2 separate regions of the Homo sapiens genome follow, and region 1 is linked to region 2. A link means that fine-mapping ties the variant in region 2 to the expression of a gene that starts in the linked region. Tissue or cell type: blood mononuclear cells. Region 2 holds a variant in brackets; the other region holds the start of a gene. All regions are shown on one strand. Distances are from middle to middle.

Region 1 (11,295 bases), 63 kb after region 2:
GTCTTGTTGACTTTTTATTTAATCTACACCGTCAGTTAGTATCTTAAAATACTACCGAGAACCAGGCACCATGTAGGCACTGGGGGACCTCACCACCTGATGCACCTGCAAACACAGATCTATTGGTCTCTAACGTGCAGCTGGAAGAGAAAATAAGCCTGCTTCATAGATCTCATCAGAAGGAGACACAACTCTCTAAGAAGGTCATATTTGATAAAATAGCCTGTAGAAGAGGGAGACTAGAGTGGTGAGTGACAGAAAAACCAGGCTGTACAGAAATATTGAGTGACCACAGGATGTTTAGTCTAAAGAAGAAAAGATTATAGGACTTTGATGGCTGTTTTCCAGCCTTTGGAGAGCTGTTGTGTGACTACAGGGGAGCCTTAAGACGTCTTTTGGGTTATTTCAGTTGGACCAATGCGGTGAAAGTTAGAAAGGACAGATTCATGTTGATGTCTTAAAAGTTTTCCTGCCAACCTTGGAAAAGGCTGCCTCTAAAATTGCAAGATTTCTAAAAAAGCTATATTGTCAGTGACTAGAATGGATGATCTCTAAGAATTCCTCTGATGCCAGTTTTTTTCATTTTTATTTTCCAAATTAAGTGGGAGGTAAGAGAACTTTTCATATACTTTCCTGAAGCCTTCAGACCTGCAAGAATTTTGCCAGCCCACAATTAATGAGTATGCTTCTCCATCTTCCCCACTTTCACTGGCTAAAACAACCTTGATTTAGTGAACAGAATGTCATAGTAAATATACTCCAACCATTAAATTACACCACTGACCCACTTAGGGTGAAACAGTTATTAAATTCTAAACTGTGTCTCCATTCATTCACCAGTTGGACATGTAAATACCAGTGCTGACCAGAACATACAAGAAGGGGAAAATCTTGCCTCAAAGTGAGGTAAATGGTGAGAGGAAGCTGACAGACCAGAGCCTAAGAGGTGGAGCACATAGAAGCTTCCACATACTGTCTGCAGCTCAAGAGGGAGTAATGGTGCCCTGAGCTGTGCAAATGCCAGAGGAAGGGAGGCACCTCTCAGCTCCCTGGAGCTACCCTAATATTTACTGTGGTGGTGTCTCCCAAGCTTCACAGTTCAAGCCAGCATCTTCGGAACACCTGCTATGATTTTAGATGAGCCCAGATGTCATCACACAGCTAAGAAGATAAACCATTACCACATTCTCAGCTGGCCATTTCTGTTGTTCACTTCTGACCAAGGAATACTTAGCCCAGAAGGTTGCCTTCAATGCAACAAAATGTACAGCTCTAGGGGAGGAAGACCAATTAAATACTTCTGTCAATAAGTTGCTGTCACCAAAAACTGTGAATTTACCTCTTTATTTTTTGCCAATTACATCATTTTGACATCATGTTAATTTTCCTGGGGAATCACTGTTTAGTTTAAAACAAGGAAGTTTTACTGCTCTAATATTGACATAGATTGACAAATAAACATAGAAGCCCAGTTTTTATTATTACCATTAACTAGAAGTCTTGTTACAGTGAGACAAGATATCTTGTTTTTAAGTTGAAGTGCCTAAATAATCTGAAAGTTATTTTGAATGATACTAACAACCACTTGGAAAAATCTGGTTAAAACATAGAGTTAAACTAAAAGATAAGATCAGTTGCATGATTGCAGAGTTACAGAGAATTTACAAGACTTTAAATAGTTACCGATAGTGATGCTTTTATACAGTGAGCAGGAATAGTAACATATTAATGTCTGGTAACTTTGTCAAGCTAAAAAATCATAATTATAGGACTGGACACCGTCGTTCAAGCCTGTGATTCCATCACTTTGGGAGCCCAAGACAAGAGGATCACTTGAGTCCAGGAGACCAGCCTGGGCAACATAGTGAGGCCTTGTCTCTACAAGAAAAAAAAAATTTAAAAATTGTCCAGGTGTGGTGGTGCCTGTGGTCCCAGCTACACCAGAGGCTGAGGTGGGAGAATTGCTTGATCCCAGGAAGTTGAGGCTGCACTGAGCTGTGATCATGCCACTGCACAACAGCCTAAGCAATTAAGGAGACGTTTTCTCAAAAACTAAAATTAAAAAAGGATCATAATTATGAAGGGGGAAAATGTGATATAGGTATTATGTATATAAAAACATAATGAGAAGCACCGTTATTTCTCATGAAGGCAAGTGCTTTCTATGAATCCATTGACAAGGAGGGTGCTGGGCAGCTAGTGATGATAATGGTGATAACCAAGAGGAAAATGTCACAGCAGAGCCAATTCCCTTTTTCCAACTCATTTAAGGACCCACCCACTATTGTGTTTAGACACCCCGTACACCAAAAGGCTAAGGTTGCTTCTGTACAACATATTCAAATAAACCATTCCAAGGTAGACTTCATTTTACTTGTAGAAAGCAACATTTTGCAGATGAGTTTTGTTTGGTTTGTCTCCGTCAATCAATTTTAAGCCAAATGTATAAACCATTTTAACAAGAGATGAATCATGAGGCACCTGAGAAGTAATACAAATATACCAGCTACAATGAATTTATTTAACCTTCACAGCAGTAGTTACTGTTACTATCCTGCTTTAACAGAGGAAGAAACTAAAGTGCAAGGGGTTTCGAGGAATTTGTCCAAGATGCATACAGCTAAGAATTGGCAGAGGAGGGATTTGAACTCACCTTGGCTGATGCCAAATCCAAGTACTTGATCATTAGGCTGTACCACCTCCCCAGTAATGTTACACAGGTAAAAATTAATCACGTGCCTAGTGTGTGCTGGGAACTGTGTTAAGCCCTTTATATACATTACCATGTTAACTTTGATAGTTGAGACATTTGGACACAGGTAAGAGGGATAACAAAAGAACCACTAGGTCGACTGTTCTATGTGTCTTTGGCATAATACCCTAGCTTGGATGAAATCTCTGTGTTACTTGAAATTGCAAGATTTTAGCAAAATCAGTTATTTTATGATTTCTTCCTTGCAGAGGTGGAATGGTGCAAACCAGTGAGCAGTATGAATTTGTGCACCATGCTCTGTGCCTGTATGAGAGCAGACTTTCAGCAGAGACTGTCCAGTGAGTCATTGAAGACTTGTCAGACCATCAATCTCTTGGGGTGATTAATCAAATTACCCACCCAAGGCTTCTAGAAGGAGCTTCCTGCAATGGAAGGAAGGAGAAGCTCTGAAGCCCATGTATGGCATGGATTGTGGAAGACTGGGCAACATATTTAAGATTTCCAGCTCCTTGTGTATATGAATGCATTTGTAAGCATCCCCCAAATTATTCTGAAGGTTTTTTGATGATGGAGGTATGATAGGTTTATCACACAGCCTAAGGCAGATTTTGTTTTGTCTGTACTGACTCTATCTGCCACACAGAATGTATGTATGTAATATTCAGTAATAAATGTCATCAGGTGATGACTGGATGAGCTGCTGAAGACATTCGTATTATGTGTTAGATGCTTTAATGTTTGCAAAATCTGTCTTGTGAATGGACTGTCAGCTGTTAAACTGTTCCTGTTTTGAAGTGCTATTACCTTTCTCAGTTACCAGAATCTTGCTGCTAAAGTTGCAAGTGATTGATAATGGATTTTTAACAGAGAAGTCTTTGTTTTTGAAAAACAAAAATCAAAAACAGTAACTATTTTATATGGAAATGTGTCTTGATAATATTACCTATTAAATGTGTATTTATAGTCCCTCCTATCAAACAATTACAGAGCACAATGATTGTCATTGGGTATATATGTATTTACTCTCTATTATTGGGCATAAAGGTGGCTTCTGCTCCAGAACTCTATCCACTGTATTTCCACATCGTGAGTCATTTTACTTTAAAAGGGAAAAACAAATTTGTAGCAACTCTGAAGTATCAAGAGTTTTAACTACTTGTCTCTCTTTTGCTAAGAAGGGATTTTTGAATATGCTATCTACCTGGAATCTCTCTCTCAACAAAAGGTATATGCCTTCAGGAATGATATAATCTGTCCCATTTTCGAGGCTCCTTATAAGGACATTTCCATGTATGTCCTTACATTTCTGAAAGCTTTCAATCTTCAAGAGACAAAAAAAATTAAAATAACTACCCTCAGCAAACACTAGCTGTTCTGCTCATATATGAATTTTTAATGCAGCAATGTTGACTTTGTTTCATACTGCCAATAAACTCTTAATACTAAATACTGAGTAAAGCATATTCTTTTTTTTTTTTCTATTTGGAAAGACGCCATCCTCTGTTTGGGGAAGACCAAAGTAGATAATGTGATGGGTTTAATTTTAGTGTCTGCATCTCCCCAGTGAAGATGACGATCTCAAAATGTAATATTGTCATCACTTGGGAGATAATGATCTAGAAGTGCCATCATTATGTGGTTTTCCTCAATAGACTCGCAGCATATCATTATACAAACAGTACATGTTTATGTCTTTATATCACTTGTCATAGACCCTCATCAATTACATGGCTTATGTTTATTCAGCAGAATCACATCACCTGAAGAGATGTAATGTTTCAGGAACATTCAATTATCTGAGATTTCAATTCCTTTCTTTCTTCTTGAGGTTAAGAAGCAGTCACATGCCAAAGGAAAGGTAGGTGAGGTCTTAACGAGATTTACTCTGCTCTTGAAGGCTGGAATATTTTCTACATTAAAAAAAAGAGGTAATCATAATCCCTTCTTTCTAAGGAAACAGACAAAAGGACACTGGTGTAAAACTTCCCCAAACAATTCAATAGGAGGAAGTGCTCGTCACTGACTTTTCCCCCCACCATGAAGGCACATTTCCTTCCTAGTCTTTGCTTCTCTTATCTGGGAGAATTTTTTTTTTCCCCAAGCGAAGCATGAACAGTTGCTAAGTGGAAAATGGAGGCTGAATTTTACATGGTGATTCTTACCTGCTTGATCTTCAGGAACTCAGGTGAGTGGGTCTGCCTCAGTGTCCTGAGGCATTTCTTCAAGATCTAGCCAAGGAGTCCCTGGTCTTTGAAGTGTCTGAAATAAGGTAGAAGGGGCCAGGTCTCCATGGCAGTTTAGCCAAAGACGATGAAAAGCAGGAATAAAAGGAGCCAGCTATGCCCATACTGTTGAGATTTCTCTCCAAAAGAAAATAAATGCTCTCCTCTCATCCTCCAAATGCTTCAGGCAGCCCCTGAAATGATACATTTAGAGCAGAGCGTAAAGAACCCCGAGGAAAAGTTTGTATTATTATATAACAGTCTGTGGCTTTCCCCAAGCCTTTTTCCGACCCGGTTATAGTTTTATTTTCTTTTGTGTTGAAGAAAGAAAATTGAAGGAATATGATTAAAGGGGGTGAGGAAATGTAGTGTGTTTTATTTGGAAGTTGTCATTTGGGAGGGCTGAACATTTTCATGAGCGAGCTGGGCAATTTAAGTAAAACCTCATTGAAAATGGTTTCTGAGCCAGAGTATCTTGCTCTTTAATACTGATGTTTAGCAATTTGATGTTTAATTTTCTTACACTGGCACATGATGATTTTTAGAAAATCTATTCGTATTTGAGAGAAAACTGTAGATATTGTCATAAAATAGAGAAATGCTCCTCTCCACGACTAAAGGAAATTTAGTTTGTGATAATCAATACTTTCATTGGCTGCAATTAGCTAGGAGGTTGTGCTTGGAGAAGTGGGAAAATTTGTTTTATTTTTTGATAAATGTATGCAATTTTAAAAAATTGTTATTCAAACTATGAAATTTGTATATAAATACTGCAATGTGAATTTAAAGACTGGAAAAGGGGGTGCTTTTTTAAGGTAAGGGAGGAAGCTTATATCGAATATGTCAAATGGTTAAAAAGGGAGCTGAGCATTTCATAACTTCAGCATATCTAACTAATTGGGCTAAAATATACTATATACTTTGGATGGTTTTGTTTCTTTCCAAGCTTCCTTTCATTTTCCAATAAGAGGTGTGCTTTTTTCCCCTAAAGCATGTGAAAATTAAAAAAAAAAAAAAGATGGGGAGTTAAGTGTAACATATTGACATTTTATATCGTCAGCTTTGGAATTTTAAATCACATGTGTTAAATATGAGAATGTTCACTTGAAATGATAGAAATAACAAAATATAAGTAAAACTAGTGATTTTATTTAGCTCATTTGTGGGTGGGTTCTTCCGTTTTCTAATGGGCCTCATAATTTGCTACATAGTGCTTTATGAGCTTTTCATCTTCCAGAAGGGTTTCAGATTGTCCATGTCCAGAAACAACAGTGTCTTTTCAAAAATGAGAAAGTGGTCGTGGGCTCATGCAACAGGACCATCCAGAACCAGCAGTGGATGTGGACTGAGGATGAAAAGCTCCTTCATGTTAAATCTGCACTGTGCTTGGCCATCTCCAACTCTTCCCGCGGCCCCTCCCGCTCAGCCATCTTGGACCGCTGTTCCCAGGCACCCCGATGGACCTGCTATGATCAGGAAGGCTTCCTTGAGGTGGAAAATGCCTCTCTCTTTCTCCAGAAACAAGGCTCCAGAGTAGTGGTCAAGAAGGCCAGGAAATACCTCCATAGCTGGATGAAAATAGATGTCAACAAGGAGGGAAAACTGGTCAATGAAAGCCTCTGTTTACAAAAAGGTGAGCTATTCCTTTCAGAGCAAATCCTGAAAGTCTTTCTACTAAATATCTTGGGGGTTTTGTTTGTTTGTTTGTTTGTTTGTTTTACATTTAAGGGAAGTCCACATGCCCCAACATATTTCCTATGGAAGATTCATAAGCTAATGGAGGTGGATGGTGACGTGCCCAATGATGGAAAACTTCATGACCCTCATTAAAATAAGCCCAACTTTTTCTATTGCTTTTTCTTCCTTCCCTTCTTGTCTTGCTTCTTTTATTAATTCAACAACTATTTCATGAGCCTCTCTTCTCTGCCAGTTAAGCACTGTTAGATGTAGGAATATGGATGTAGGCATATACACAGCCTATATATGTAATGACTAAAGTCAGTAATCGGAAAATTATTAGATTTTATTGACAGACACTTCTATTTGCTAATTATAATAAATTATTAGAACATCAGAATGGTGCTTGATAAGACTGGAAGATAGTTGTGTTTTTGCAAATCTCTTGTATTGCTGTTTAGGGGTAGATATCTTTTGGAGGTAACACACTTTTGAAATGTTAAGAATCAATGGGCAGCCACAGATTTTTCTAATTTATTGACCATTAATGGATATAACCCAGATAATGGACACATGTAGAAAATATGTTATACACATGTGCAAGCTCCTGGTGCAGGACACAGTTCAGTCCTGAGCTAGGAATTTTTGCTTGTGGAATATATAGGCAGTTTAATCTTCTCTTGAAGTTAATCATGCAATTGTGTATTTACTCTTCTATTAGAGGTTTGCTTTAGAAAGTCATGAAAGATAAAACTGATGAATCACAATATATTAGGCACCAATGAACCTTACAAAGCATGGGAAAAGTTATCAAGAAACGAAGCGCCTCACTAAGAAGACAAATTTTTCAGGGTTAAGTAAATTGTCCCAGATAAATTAGCAGCAGATCTATGATTAGAGCCTAAGTTTTTTGACTCTTTGTTCAGTGTACATTTTACTATACCAGAGGTTCCCAAATGCTTGACCACAGACTTGCCCCATGGCTTGCCTAAGAATCACCTGGGGTAGAAAAGGGAGGGCTTACTAAAAATACACATTCCCGTAGCTAATGCATCCTGGGCTTAATTCCTAGGTGATGGGTTGATAGGTGCAACAAAGCACCACGGCACACGTTTACCTATGTAACAAATCTGCACACCCTGCACATGTACCCCAAAACTAAAAATAAAAATTTAAAAAAAAATACACATTCCCAGGATTCTTTCCCACCATTTTTTCCTCTACAACCACCTCCAAGATTCTGTTTCAGGAAATCTGGATTTGTGCATAATACTTGATATTTATTAATCACCAGAAAATTTTGATCCATAATCCAATATGGAGATCAGCATCCACTGTATTGTTAAGTCTTTTCCTTAGGTGTTGATTTGTGAGGCTTATATTAGTCTTTCCACCATGGTAATCTTTGGACAATTTTTTCTCACTCATTCATTCTGTAAGTTAAAACAAGCATTTAACTAGATGCCATTTGAATGTGTTATGCTTTTCTACAATAAGTGGTATGCTTTGCTACAATAAAAGTTGAGAGTTATAGTTTCTGTTCTTATATCATTTCTGCCTATGAGAAAAAAACCTACTCAAAAATTCAACTTTATCAGAAAATATTCAGCATATAGCACCAATTTGTACAATACCTTTCCTGTGGTTCATCTATCAAGGCCTCTCCTAAATAATATAGAAACATTATAACTGTTCCATTTTTACTGTTTTACACAAGAAGTGAGATTCATCCCCAAACCCCAATCAAACCTTATTTAACATAAGATTACTTAGTTGGAACTTTAAAAAAAAGTAGATATGGACTCAGTGGTGAGTTATTCAAGATAAAAGATAATTCATAGAAAAACTACCTCCTATGACCCTCATACAAATATGTCTAGTAATAGACTTCGAAAATAAGGTAACTAGAATAAGCCATTTGCAATTAACCACTGAACAATGCTATATTCAAAAAATGCCTGATAATATGTGTTGGGGAAAGAAATTAATTTCTAGAAAAAGCAGAAGTTAAAATTTGCACAATTGTGGTACAAAAACACCCTTATATTTGAGTACACATAAGTATAACACATACTTTTGCTTTAACACAATTATAAGCTAACAGATATATTTTTCTGCTCCATCTTAAATATGCCATTGTGGGGTTTTTTCTTTTTGTTTTTGTTTTTTCTTTGGTTTTTGTTTTTAGAAACAAAGTCTTGCTCTGTTGCCCAGGCAGGAGAGCCATGGTGTGATCATAGCTCAATGTAGCCTCCAACTCCTGGGCTCAAGTGATCCTCCCACCTCAGCCTCCCAAAGTACTGGGATTACAGGCATGAATCACCATGCCCAGCCCTGATAAAAGTTTAAGAATAATACTTGTAGACCTATATCATGAGAGCTCACTGACTTGCTAGAGTAGCTACTGTGAAAAATTAACCGAAATGCATTCATATGTTTGCAATGAGTGATTTCAAATCATTGTTTAAGTTGGTAACTAAGTATTATAATCTACAGCAGCACAAATACATGTGTTGTTCATCTATGGGATGTGAATTTTTTTGTGTGTTCTTCCATGAAAGAAAGCAGACCTATGAAGGTAAAAATCTAAGCCACATGTTTCATATTTGTTTCATAAAAGACACATTAATGATTGTATTCAAGTTTCCAGGTAATATTTATTTAACACCTACTATGTGCCAGAGCTTGTGCTAGCACTCAGGTACCCTGTGCTAGTACTAAGGTGCCCTCCACAAGTGATTTTTGACCCAAGCTGCATATTAGACTCACATGGCAGCTTTTAACTAATACTAGAGTATAAAACCTGAGCTTTATCCTCTAAGCTGACTAAATGAGGTATTGTATTTTTAAAGTACTTCCTAGGTGATTCTGATGTGCAGCCAAGGTTGCAAATCATTAAATACATCTTATTCCTTAAAGTAATGGGGAAATCAGATAAGTAAATAAATAGGTAATTACAATAGAATGTAGAGAGAAGAAAGTACTTTCCTTTCCAATATATGTCCTTGCCAGTATGTCACATTAAGCACTCATTCCTTTTTTTTTTTTAATTATACTTTAAGTTCTAGGGTGCATGTGCACAATGTGCAGGTTTGTTACATAGGTATACGTGTGCCATGTTGGTTTGCTGCACTCATCAACTCGTCATTTACACTAGGCATTTCTCCCAGTGCTATCCTTCCCCCAGTCCCCCACCCCCCGACAGGACCCAGTGTGTGATGTCTCCTGCCCTGTGTCCAAGTGTTCTCGTTGTTCAATTTCCACCTATGAGTGGTACACGCGGTGTTTGGTTTTCTGTCCTTGTGATAGTTTGCTGAGAATGATGGTTTCCAGCTTCATCCATGTCCCTGCAAATGACATGAACTCATCATTTTTTATGGCTGCAATAGTATTCCATGGTGTATATGTGCCACATTTTCTTAATCTAGTCTACCATTGATGGACATTTGGGTTGGTTCCAAGTCTTTGCTATTGTGAATAGTGCCACAATAAATATACACGTGCATGTGTCTTTATAGTAGCTTGATTTATAATCCTTTGAGTATATACCCAGTAATGCAATCACTGGGTCAAATGGTATTTCTAGTTCTAGATCCTTGAAGAATCACCACACTGTCTTCCACAGTGGTTGAACTAGTTTACACTCCTACCAACAGTGTAAGTGTTCCAATTTCTCCACATCCTCTCCAGCATCTGTTGTTTCCTGACTTTTTAATGATTGCCATTCTAACTGGCAAGAGATGGTATCTCATTGTGGTTTTGATTTGCATTTCTCTGATGACCAGTGATGATAAGCATTTTTTCATGTGTCTGTTGGCTGCATAAATGTCTTCTTTTTAGAAGTGTCTGTTCATATCCTTTGCCCACTTTTTGATGGGGTTGTTTGTTTTTTTCTTGTAAATTTGTTTAAGTTCTTTGTAGATTCTGGATATTAGCCCTTTGTCATATGGGTAGATTGCAAAAATTTTCTCCCATTCTGTAGGTTGCCTGTTCACTCTGATGGTAGTTTCTTCTGCTGTGCAGAAGCTCTTTAGTTTAATTAGATCCCATTTGTCTATTTTGGCTTTTGTTGCCATTGCTTTTGGTGTTTTAGTCATGAGGTGTTTGCCCATGCCTATGTCCTGAATGGTATTGCCTAGGTTTTCTTCTAGGGTTTTTATGGTTTTAGGTCTAACATTTAAGTCTTTAATCCATCTTGAATTGATTTTTGTATAAGGTGTAAGGAAGGGATCCAGTTTCAGCTTTCTACATATGGCTAGCCAGTTTTCCCAGCTCCATTTATTAAATAGGGAATCCTTTCCCCATTGCTTGTTTTTGTCAGGTTTGTCAAAGATCAGATGGTTGTAGATGTGCGGTATTATTTCTGAGGGCTCTGTTCGGTTCCATTGGTCTATATCTCTGTTTTGGTACCAGTACCATGCTGTTTTGGTTACTGTAGCCTTGTAGTATGGTTTGAAGTCAGGTAGTGTGATGCCTCCAGCTTTGTTCTTTTTGCTTAGGATTGTCTTGGCTATGTGGGCTCTTTTTTGGTTCCATATGAACTTTAAAGTAGTTTTTTCCAATTCTGTGAAGAAAGTCATTGGTAGCTTGATGGGAATGGCATTGAATCTATAAATTACCTTGGGCAGTATGGCCATTTTCACGATATTGATTCTTCCTATCCATGAGCATGGAATGTTCTTC
Region 2 (11,295 bases):
AATTGAACAATTTTGACCCAAAGTTGTTTATATTCTCTTGCTGAAATGGATGTGTCGCCCTGGCCCATAATATTTATACATATTTTCCTTTTTAGTTAATTATAATTAGCATGCTGTTTATTGCATTCCTTTTACCTTTCCCTAAGAATTTGCTTTTTCCTTCAATTGTTTGCATTGGTATCTTTTGAATTTCCTCCCTCTTATTTATTTTTTGGCATAAATAATAATTGGTGCTGCAGCAGGAGCTTGATAAAGCTTTTTATTATGTTCCCTTTTGTCCAACAGCAATCATGAGGCATTAAAAAGGCTAAACAGTTTGCCCACAGTTCCAAGACAAAATAAAAGTAAAGCTTTCAGTAGAGTTCGTTTTCTTGCTTTCCACATTCCTTTTTTATTAAAGGTATAGTTCTCCTATTATTTATGTTGATTTTTTTTCTAAATTCTGTCAATTTTTTTATACGTCTTAATTAGAATTTTCCCATAAGTTTATATGTTTATCTTGTTTTTGAAATGTCTTTCTGACTGTAATATATAAATGGTTATTATTTAAGTCAGTTAGCATGAAAATGCTTCCACAGCTCTCTGCTTACCACAGAATCCTTAGAAAATTAACTCATTAAATCAAATAGACCTTAGACACGGGATGTCAAAGGCTTCTAATCTCCCAGGTTTAGGCAGCGTATACTGTGGGAAGTCAAAACAGAAATTAATACACCCTGATGATGTTCTGGATCCTCTTTTATCTGGCTTTTTTTTTCGTTATTTATGTATTTATTTATTTATTTATTTTTGACATGGGGTCTCACTCTGTCACCCAACCTGGAGTACGACAGTGGTGCAATCTTACCTCACTGCAGCCTCGAACTCCTGGGCTCAAGCAATCTTCCGGCCTCATCCTCCCGAATAGCTGAGACTACAGGCAAGCACCACAACACTTAGCTATTTTATTTTTTGTAGAGACAGGGTCTTGCTATGTTGCCCAAGCCAGTCTCAAACTCCTGGCCTCAAGTGATCCTCCTGCCTCAGTCTCCCAAAGTGCTGGGATTACAGATGTCAGCCAACATCCCTGGACTATTTTTGGGCTTTTTATAGTCTTATAGTGTCTATGACTGTTGCTTCTCTCTCATCTCTCTTACATAAGCCTGCTCCCCAATTTCAAAATACATTTTTATACAAGAGAACTCTAGCTCAAACTGCTTCTATGCTGTTCTTCAAAGTTGTATTAATTTATTCTCCTACACTTTTTTTCCTACCAGATTCTTTAACTCTAGACCAAAAACTCACCTATTAAACGTTTGCTTTCAAAGCCCAACTTAAATGACTTCTACCTCATGAATCTGCTCTGACCACTCCAGATGGAAGAGATCTCACCATCTATAGCACAAGCATCACTCCATTGACAGAGGGCAGACAATTTTGTCTCTTGAGGCTGAAAATTTGACTGAATGGCATGGTGATTTTAAAGGGCATAGGACTAGCCATCCCTTAAGCGGCCTCTCTCACCTTCATACTAAAATATCTATAAAGCTTGCAAAAGCTGAATTCTCACAAATGCCCTAAATATTAAGACCAATCGGCAAACTATTATCAGAATCCGTAAGGATTTTCTATCAATTTGAAGTCCAGAACTGAACTGAAAAACTTTAAAAACTACTTTCCCACTAAAAATAGATTAAATTCTTGGTCCATGAGTAGAACCATTCTTTGCTCTTCTTCAACTATTTGCCTCCTACTCAGAAGCACAGGAACCCTATCAACCACCACCAAAAACCAAATAAGAAAAAGTGGAGTGGGAAAAATATCCCTCTATTAGGTAGGCAGGATTTTATGAGCATCTAGAATAAATGCTATTCCCTAATCCCTAACCCAGTGATCCAAAAGAGTTAAGAAGAATAATAGGATGAGAAAAAGTTTTCAGAAACATACCCCCCAAAACATATAGGCATATCAATATTCATTTTTTAAAGCCAGATGTGAGGGCAAATATAAAATTAACAGGAAAGAAAGTAATATTGGTAACATTTATAGTGAAGATATGACTAAATCCCTTCAAATAACACAATGGCTGCAATGTACAAGGTAAAAACTGTTAGAAGGAAAAATAACAAGCATAATTATTGTGGAAGACTCACATACATATCTCAGGCTTTGACAAATCCAGTAGAAAAAAAAAAAGGAAGGAAAGAATAGGTTGGAATAAAGTAATATCTTCAATAAAATAATGGTATAATAAATAAGGTGATATATATGTATATATGTGCAGATAGATACTTATGAACATATACAGATAATCAAACTAGATGCCAGCAAAACATCTGTGAAATATTTAGAAAATGATGTAGTGTTTATCTCGAAAAAAAATCAAGTAGTTTCAACCATTAAAAGGCCAGCCATTCTCTAATTTCCACAACTATAACTAGAAATTATAAGGAAAATAAATGTCTAAACTTACAGATATCCATCAAATTAAAGTAGAAATTAAAATCTCAATTACAAACCATTTAGAAATTAACAAAAATGACATTACATATCAAATTATAGAATGACAACAAAAATGCAACCAGAGGCAGATTCATCAGAGAAGAAAACTGATAGATTTTCGTTAATGGATTTTGTTGTTGTTGTTGTATATTCCAATAATTTTCCACTGTTTGAAATTAAGCTCAAGCCACTGTAATATTTCTTAATGTCGCATTCCAGAGTAAGTATTAAAATACCAGAGGGAATAATTTGCTGGGCCTAGCATCTACTCTTACTGTCTTTACTCTCACATATTTTGGCCTGTTTTTCCCTGCTCTCTACTTCCTTGAGCCGCCAACTGCTTGGCACTATATTTGATCTGACACACACCTACGGCCCCTTTAAATGTAACAGTTTTTGTAAACACCATCTCTGACTTCAATCCTCAGTCTCTCACATGCTATTTCATAGTTACCCCTTGGTCCACACAGCTAATATTACTTGTAAAAGGCATCCTCACTTCCTACTCAGGACTCAGGGTCTGTGTAAGTTGTAAGAGCATCCCCTTGCCCCCCAGCGGGAAAAGGGGAATTATGAGAGGAAGATAAATTGTAACTCATTTTAAGGGTCTGTGATTTCTATGGCCCCTTATAAGTTTACCACAAAATTAAATGAATTCGTGTGTCAATTCACATATGCGTGCATACATATACACATAAATAGAGGATACAGAAGCCATCTTTTTTTATTTTTATCTATTGTTTTATTTATTTATTTTAGAGCCAAGGTCTCTCTCTGCTGCCCAGGCTGGAGTACAGTGGCACCATCACGGCTCACTGCAGCCTCAACCCCCCGGGCTCAAATGATTCTCTCACCTCAGCCTCCCTAGTAGCTGAGACTACAAGTGTGGGTCACCACATCCAGCTACTTTTTGTATGTTTTGTAGAGACAGGGTTTTACCATGTTGCCCAGGTTGGTCTTGAACTCCTGAACTCAGGCAATCCACCCACCTCAGCCTCCCAAAGTGCTGGGATTGCAGTCATGAACTACCTCATCTGGCCCCAGAAGCCATTTTTTAGGGATTCACTCAGAAGATATAGATATAGATATAGCTTTTCCTAATTTTTTTTTACTTAATTTTTCACTTAATATTATTAGCCAACCTATGATTTCTGTAATAAGTATATGCATTCATAAATTATAGCATATTTTCTCAATTTAGAGTTCTTTCCAACAACAAAATTGTTATTTTCCTGTGAAGGAACTATGGGTAGTTGCTATGGCCAACCATGATACTAAAAGAGAAAATATAGTTGGTTGTTATTTCTGTAAAAGTTCTCACTGAATTGTGTGCATGTACAGAAAGACAAGTTTTTGCAATCAAAATAAGTATGTGGTGTTTAAACATAACATTCTTCTCCAATGTAGAAGAGGGTCCAACGTATCTCTTACATTGGACATGAGTAGCTTGGGGAACATTGAACCCTTTGTGTCTATACCAACACCACGGGAGAAGGTAGCAATGGAGTATCTGCAGTCAGCCAGCCGAATTCTCACAAGGTCTCAGCTGAGGGACGTCGTGGCAAGTTCACATTTACTCCAAAGTGAATTCATGGTGAGCCTTCTATTTATTGTTCACTCTTCAGTCGGTATTTTGATACATGGGGCACTAGAGACGTATGGAAATGATACTGTCCTATACTTAAGCAGTCTACAGTAAACAAATGGCAAAGTGAAATGGTTTTAGATTCACTCAGTCTCATCCACTATTGATAAGTATTAAAATTGGAATGTAGAGCTAAATTAAGGCAGAATATGCAAGAATTGGTGAGGCAAATAAGTGGTATAGGGAGCTGGGCAGAGAAGGGGCATTCCAGGACAAAGAATAGCCTTGCTGTCACTGTCTGGGGAATTAAACTGTTCAGTTTAACTGGAACATTGAAATCAAGGTGGGAAGTGGCAAAAGTTGAGCCTCAGAAGTATAAAAGAAACCCTAGCCTTAATATATGTTTAGGAGCTTGGACTTTATCTTATGTTTTGGATAGATCATTCTATTTGCAGTGGAGTAGGCACTAAAAGGGAGCAGTTTAGAGGCTCTAGTGTTAATCCTGTGGAACTGCGTTGGTGGCCTAAACTAATATAGTAGAAGGGAAAATGGAAAGAATCTGTAGGAATCTACAAGAAGTGGGATTAATTGAATGAGGCAGCCAAAAGTAATGGAAAAGTCAGGGATTGATATTCGTGTTTTTGGTTTGGCCAACAGGGTGCATATGGTGCCCTTTAACGAAATAAGGAACACAGGAGGAAGACCAAGTGTGGGCTAAAAAGAATGATGAATTCAGTTTTAGACATACCAGTGTTGCTAGTGAAAGCTTAAAGCATGATAACATACATCAACTCAGAGAACATGAAGTAAGATTAAACCTTCTTAGGTCTAATTGTTGCCCAAGGAGAATATTGACTTTGTTGATCACCTCTTGCATCTTAAGCCGTATTGGTTGAGTACAATAAATTGATTATTAGTTCAGGCATTTGCAGCCATCCTAATGGTGACAGATTCAGCAATGGGTTGGATCTACTATTAGCCCCATCAACTATTATTAAGTGTCCAAAGTAAAATACAAACATGAAAATCAGACTCTGTGGTGTATCATATTTTACATGTGAAGAAAATGAGACCTGTAGGAATGAAAGAACAAGTCAGTGGTCACACAGCTAGCCAAAGGCACACCTAGAGCTTTTTTTTTCTAGAACTGCAGACAGCTCTTTGTTTATGAAATAAGACCTTACCATAGCCCACTTTCCTGAAAGGAAATTGAAGGCCAGAAGGAGTACACAGGAGAAAGAGAATGCTGGAAGATGACAGACTGTCAGTGTGTGTCAGAAAACAGAAGGTGAGAAGGAAGAAGGGGAGGAATAAAGATATTACCTTTGTGGCTTTGCCCAAAGACACTGACGTGCTTGAAATTACCAAACATGAACATGTGTTTTCCATTGAATATTCAACAATTTTGCTTATTTTTATAACTTGGAACAAACAGGTTAAAACATTTAGTTGGAGCAGAGAATAGGGATAAATATCATGGATAGCTAGCATAATGCAGGTAAAGGAAAAATTATTTTAAAAATAAGTAACTTGGGGCCAGGTGTTGTGGCTCATGCTTGTAATCCCAGCTACTCAGGAAGCTGAGATGGGAGGATGCCTTGAGCCCAGGAGTTTGAGGTTACAGTGAGCTATGATTGTGCCACTGCACACTGACCTAGGTGACAGAGTGAGATCCCATCTCTAAAAATAAATTAATTAATAAACGAATAGCTGTTTCTCTCTGTAGAACAAGCCTCAAATTCATAGTATAGTCCAGCTTTTCTCAAATTTTCAGAATGACTGAAAACTAGGATAATTTGAATGAATTTAAAGATGATTTCTTCTATTTCAATCAATATTAGACTGTTAAGTTAAATTTTCTACTGGAGAAAGTTTAAGTAGTAAAAATATCTTATTTGATCAAATATTTAATGTTTATCAGTCATTAAATAACATAAAAGTTATTTTGTTCATGTTAATCTTATCAAAGTTAGAGAACATACTATTTTGTATAATCAAATCTTTAAACAAATGTTTGTTTGGACCCTTTTGAAAACTTTGGCTTGTTGCTTTATTTGTCCTGGTTAGCTACAGATACACACCTTTTTAGATCTAATGCACTTACATACAGCCACTCTTTTCCTATTGTTCCCTGTCCAATCACTTGAGGCATATAATGTATACTCTGATAAAATAAGAATAGTAATGTTCTTAAGTGGGAGAAACAGTGTTTGAATGCCCTTCACTAAAAACAGTGCATTTATAACTTAAAATGGAACAGTCCAGTTATAAACCATTTCTTAATTCAAAAAAAAGTCATGTCATCACTTGAATTAACAAAAAAGCCCTTTATATTTACCATTTTGGGAAAGAGGTTTTAATAATCCTAAAAGAGTCACTATTAGTGTGAAAAGATAATCTATTATAGTAAAATTTTTGGTACTAAAGTTATGTAAAAACTGGAATATATTTGAATACATTGTTTTTTAAAAAAATTCACTTTTTAGCATCTGTCTAATCTTTCTAGCAATTATGTCACAGCAGGATTCTTAAAATCTAACCAGTGTTATATGTCTCCTTACTGACTACATATTAAGCAATATTTTCTAACACACAGAGCTGTTTCTTAGAAGTCAGCTTGTCCGGATGCAGCTGATATGTTTAGGAAAGGAAGGGTGTTGGTCCACC[A/T]GAGGTGCTAGATCTGTTGTTTTTAAGTGGCTTTGAAGTCCAATAGAACTCTGGATCAGATGCCCCCCTGTGAAGATTTTCTTTGTGGCAGTATTAGATACACTAATTTGATATTATTTATTTTTGCAGGAAATACCAATGAACTTTGTGGATCCCAAAGAAATTGATATTCCGCGTCATGGAACTAAAAATCGCTATAAGACCATTTTACCAAGTAAGCTTCTTGATTTTATAATTTGCATTGTATGGGGGGCAAGGGGAGGGATAGCCATTAGGAGAAATACCTAATGTAGATGATGGGTTGATGGATGCAGCAAAAGCAAACCACAATGGCACATGTATACCTATGTAACAAACCTGCACATTCTGCACATGTATCCCAGAACTTAAAGTATAAATAATAATAATAATTTACATTGTAAAGCACAAGACAAGTCTTCCCATTAACCCTTACCTCAGCATTTCCAATTCTTACAACACCCACTTCATATCAAATTTGGAATTACAAACACATGTCAAGACTAATAATCATTAAAACTATCTGAAGTTAATGATTTTACCTTTTTACTCTTATTATAATGTCCAGGTCACAATTCCAATAGACACATATTCTAAAATTTTGTTGTGCCACACATTATGGCTACCTGATTTTTGTCAAGGGTCAAACAATTCAATGGGAAAAAGAGAGTCTTTTCAACAAATGGAGCAGAAACAACCAGATATCCACATGCAAAAAAATGAAGTTGAAGACAAAAATTGACTCAAAATGGACCAGAGACCTACACATAAGAGCTAGAACTACAAAACTCATAAACGAAAACAGCTGTAAATCTTTATGACCTTGAATTAGTCAGTGGTTTCTTAGATAAGCCAACAAAAGCACAAACAGCAGCAAAAAAAAATTGAACTTCATTAATACTAAAAATTTTGTGCTTCAAAGGATACCTTCAAGGAAGTGAAAAGACAACTCATAGAATGGAAGAAAATAAATATTTGCAAATCATGTATCTAATAAGGGACATGTAGCTACAATACGCAAATCTTACAACTCAATAATAGAAACACAAACAACCCAAAAAATGGACAAAAGATTTCAATGGATATTTCTCCCTAGAAGATGTACAAATGACCAACAAGCATATTAAAAGATGTTTAACATCACTAGCCATCAGTGAAATCAAAACTACAGCAAGATAGTACTTTATATCCATGAGGATAACTATAATTTTAAAAATAGACAATAAAAAATGCTGGCAAGGATGTAGAGAATTGGAAACTTAACACTACAGTTTTAAGTACAGCTACAGCTACTTAGGAAAACAGTTTGGCAGTTCCTTAAAAGATAAAACTGAGTTGCTATATGACCTGGACACTCTACTTCTAGGTAAATATTACCTAAAAGAAATGAAATGTGTTCACACAAAAATGATACAAAAATATTTATAACAGCATTATTCATAATAGCCAAAGAGTGGCAACCATCAGCTGAGAAATGGATAGATAAAATGTAGTATAGTCACACAATAGAATCAATAAAAAGGAACAAGGCACTGATGAACCTTGAATGAACCTTGAAAACATCATGCTAAGTGAAAGAAGCCAGGCACAAAAGACCTCATATTTTGTAGTCCATTTATATGAAATGTCCAGATAGCTAAATCTATACAGACAGAAAATATCTTAGTGGTTGCTTAGCATTAGGGGATATGGAGAATGACTGCTAAAGGACCTGTATTTATTTTGGGGCTAATTGAATGTTATAAAATTGATTTACAGTGATTGTTGCACAGCTCTGTGAAAATTTAAAAAAAAATGCTGTGATGGCACATGAAATGGGGGGATTGTATGGAATGTGAATTATTTCTCAATAAAACTATTACCAAAAAAATGTTGCTGTGCATGACAATGACCTGGAGTCCTTGTTAGTCCTGTGCCCAACCCCAGGGATTTTGTTTAAGTAGATCTGCTGTTGAGCACAGAAAACTACTTTTAGCAAACACCTAGGTGATTCCAATCCAGATGAAACCAGGATCCACTTTGAGAACCACTACTATATGTGAAACTAGATTGAGCTTCATGGAATTTATTAACGTCAAGCAATGACCTGAATGCCAGGGACCAGTAAGAAATAAGAAACAGTCTATAAAATCAAGGAGGTCACAGACTAGAAACGAGAGTCATATAAATGGTAATTATGCTCAGTGCATAGGCCAGAATAAAGATACTGCCCAAGCAGTGTAGGAGTTCAGAGAGGACTGAGTAATTAATTCTGTCCAGAGAAATTAGGCAAAAAAAAAAAAATGGAGAGGAAGTAATATTTTCTATGACTAAACAAACAGATATAGTTGGAGTTTTGGCAAAATCAGTAAACATCTCACGACAAAGCTCAGGAAAGATGGAGCCACAAAGTCTTTTTAACTTTTGACATTGAAATAGCAATCTTCATAATTTAGTTCATTAATTCATTCATAAGACACCAAATTCTTTATATTCATAGTAATGGTGATGTAATAAAGTAATTAAACAATTACTGTTAATACTATCTTTGGCCTTCCCCTTCTGGTGGAATTGGAAATACATTGTTAAACTATAACATATTTTTAACTGCTCTATATAGTTAAATTTATTTACCTAAGGTAGAGTCACCATTGAAGGTTATTTTATGACTATACTTGGCCAAAGGGGATGAAAGTGCTGCGTGTTAGAATTTGTGTTTTCTCTCTCCCTCTCTCTCTCTCTGTTAAATTTTTATCTAAAATATACCAAACATAAGTAATAAGGGAATATACCTCCATCACAATTATATATACCCAAACCATCATCTAATTTTAGAAGGATTTGGAAATTATTAGCATTAGTTCAAAGTTCAGCCTTCTCCATTTCCTGCCCAGATGATATCAGACAACTGCTTCATAGTCCTGTGTCAGTTTTTCCGTTCACAGAACTGGGTGGACCGCTGGATTCAGGGCACCTGTGCTGACAGCTGATGTTGCAAATGATGGATTTTCTGTTGAAAATGTCTGCAGGCTGAATGCCCCACCCACCACCCTCTGTTGCACAAAATATAATTTAGGAAATATAGCTTAGAAAAGCCACACTATTGGGTGAAAGCATCCAAAAAGCCTGGAATGAATACACAAAGATGTTCTTTATGGTTTTAGACTGTAATATGAGATAAACTTGAAATATTACATAAAATGATGATTATTAAATGATCAAGAATTTAAACATTATGATTGTTTTTAGTTTTAACCTACACTAAACTCTTCTTAGTTCTAAAAGCTTGACAGCTTGTACATAATAGCAACATTATACAATTCTGAGAATGCCTTGCAACAGATATATGGATAGGCAAGAATCAATTATGAATAAATCAATTTATAATTATAAATTAAATTATAGTCATTTCTCTAATGACAGTGTTATCTTGGCTGAGATTAAAATGCTAAAGTCAAGTTTATATCAAATTATTTTGCAGTGTAAACAAATATTAGTGATAAAAATATGTCTACATCCTAAATCACAAAAGTAGTAGGAAAAAACAATCATACATCAATAGAAAATTATTAGCAGACAATAAAATATAATACTGTAATAATAATCATACATCAATAGAAAATTATTAGCACACAATAAAATACTGTAATAATAAGTTTAAATTTTTTATTTTTACTTTAGATTCAGGGGGTACCTGTGCAGGTTTGTTACAAGGGTATATTGTGTGATGCTGCCGTTTGGGCTTCTTCTGACGGCATGACACCCAGAGAGTGAACATAGTACCCAATAGGAAGATTTTCAGCCCTTCTCCCTTTCCCTCCCTCCCTTTTTTTGGAGTCCCAGTTACTATTGTTTTCATCTTTATGTCTATGTGTATCCAGAATTTAGCTCTCACTTATAAGTGAGAACATGCAATATTTGGTTTTCTGTTCCTGTGTTAATTTGCTTAGAATAATGGCCTCCAGCTGCATCCATGTTGCTGCAAAGGACATGATTTTGTTCTTTTTTATGACTTCATGGTGTTCCATGGTGTATGTGTACCACATTTTCTTTATCCAATCCACTGTTGATGGGCATCTAGGTTGTTTCCATGTCTTTGTTATTGTGAATAGTGCTGCACTATAATAATAAATTGTATGCATATTTCTTTTATGCAGTGTGTTGATACAAATATAAGATAATATAGATACACTTAAAGAATGCCATTTACTCAGGTCATCATTTTATATTTAAAATTTTAACATCTAATAATGTTTCCTACTTAAATTATGTTTCCTTTTTTATTATATAAAGTACCTAGCACAGAGTAGATATGCAAATAAGTGAACCACTCATTAAAGCAACAAGTTATGTAGCTAAAGCAAGATACTGGAATTAGATTTGATTTCCTACCCCAACAAAAACATTTATAATTTTTGGCAGGATATTTAATCTCCCTATGCCATCCTTTATTCCCAAAAGTAGTGATAACAATACTCTCCTACAAGGCTACCGAGAAAATTAAATGATAGTATGTGTAAAATGTCTGTCAAAGTTCCAACTAATAGTAAGCCCTCAGCTAATGT

The links. PIP is the estimated chance that this variant, and not a neighbour inherited with it, causes the effect.
Region 1: PTPRB starts here. The variant in region 2 is fine-mapped to the expression of PTPRB in blood mononuclear cells (TOPMed, PIP 0.96).

The regions. Positions count from the first base shown.
Region 1 is chr12:70,630,944-70,642,238 of GRCh38, reverse strand. PTPRB (protein tyrosine phosphatase receptor type B) reads left to right here and starts at 4,810. Exons shown (of 34, transcript NM_001109754.4): 1 at 4,810-4,898; 2 at 6,173-6,568. The coding sequence starts at 4,844. It overlaps PTPRR (protein tyrosine phosphatase receptor type R), which reads left to right. Exons shown (of 14, transcript NM_002849.4): 14 at 2,962-4,160. The coding sequence ends at 3,055.
Region 2 is chr12:70,693,917-70,705,211 of GRCh38, reverse strand. PTPRR (protein tyrosine phosphatase receptor type R) reads left to right here. Exons shown (of 14, transcript NM_002849.4): 7 at 3,889-4,075; 8 at 6,863-6,947. Among named protein-coding and RNA genes, the nearest start is that of PTPRB, 62 kb to the right of the region's middle. The variant A/T (reference allele first, on the strand shown) is at 6,734.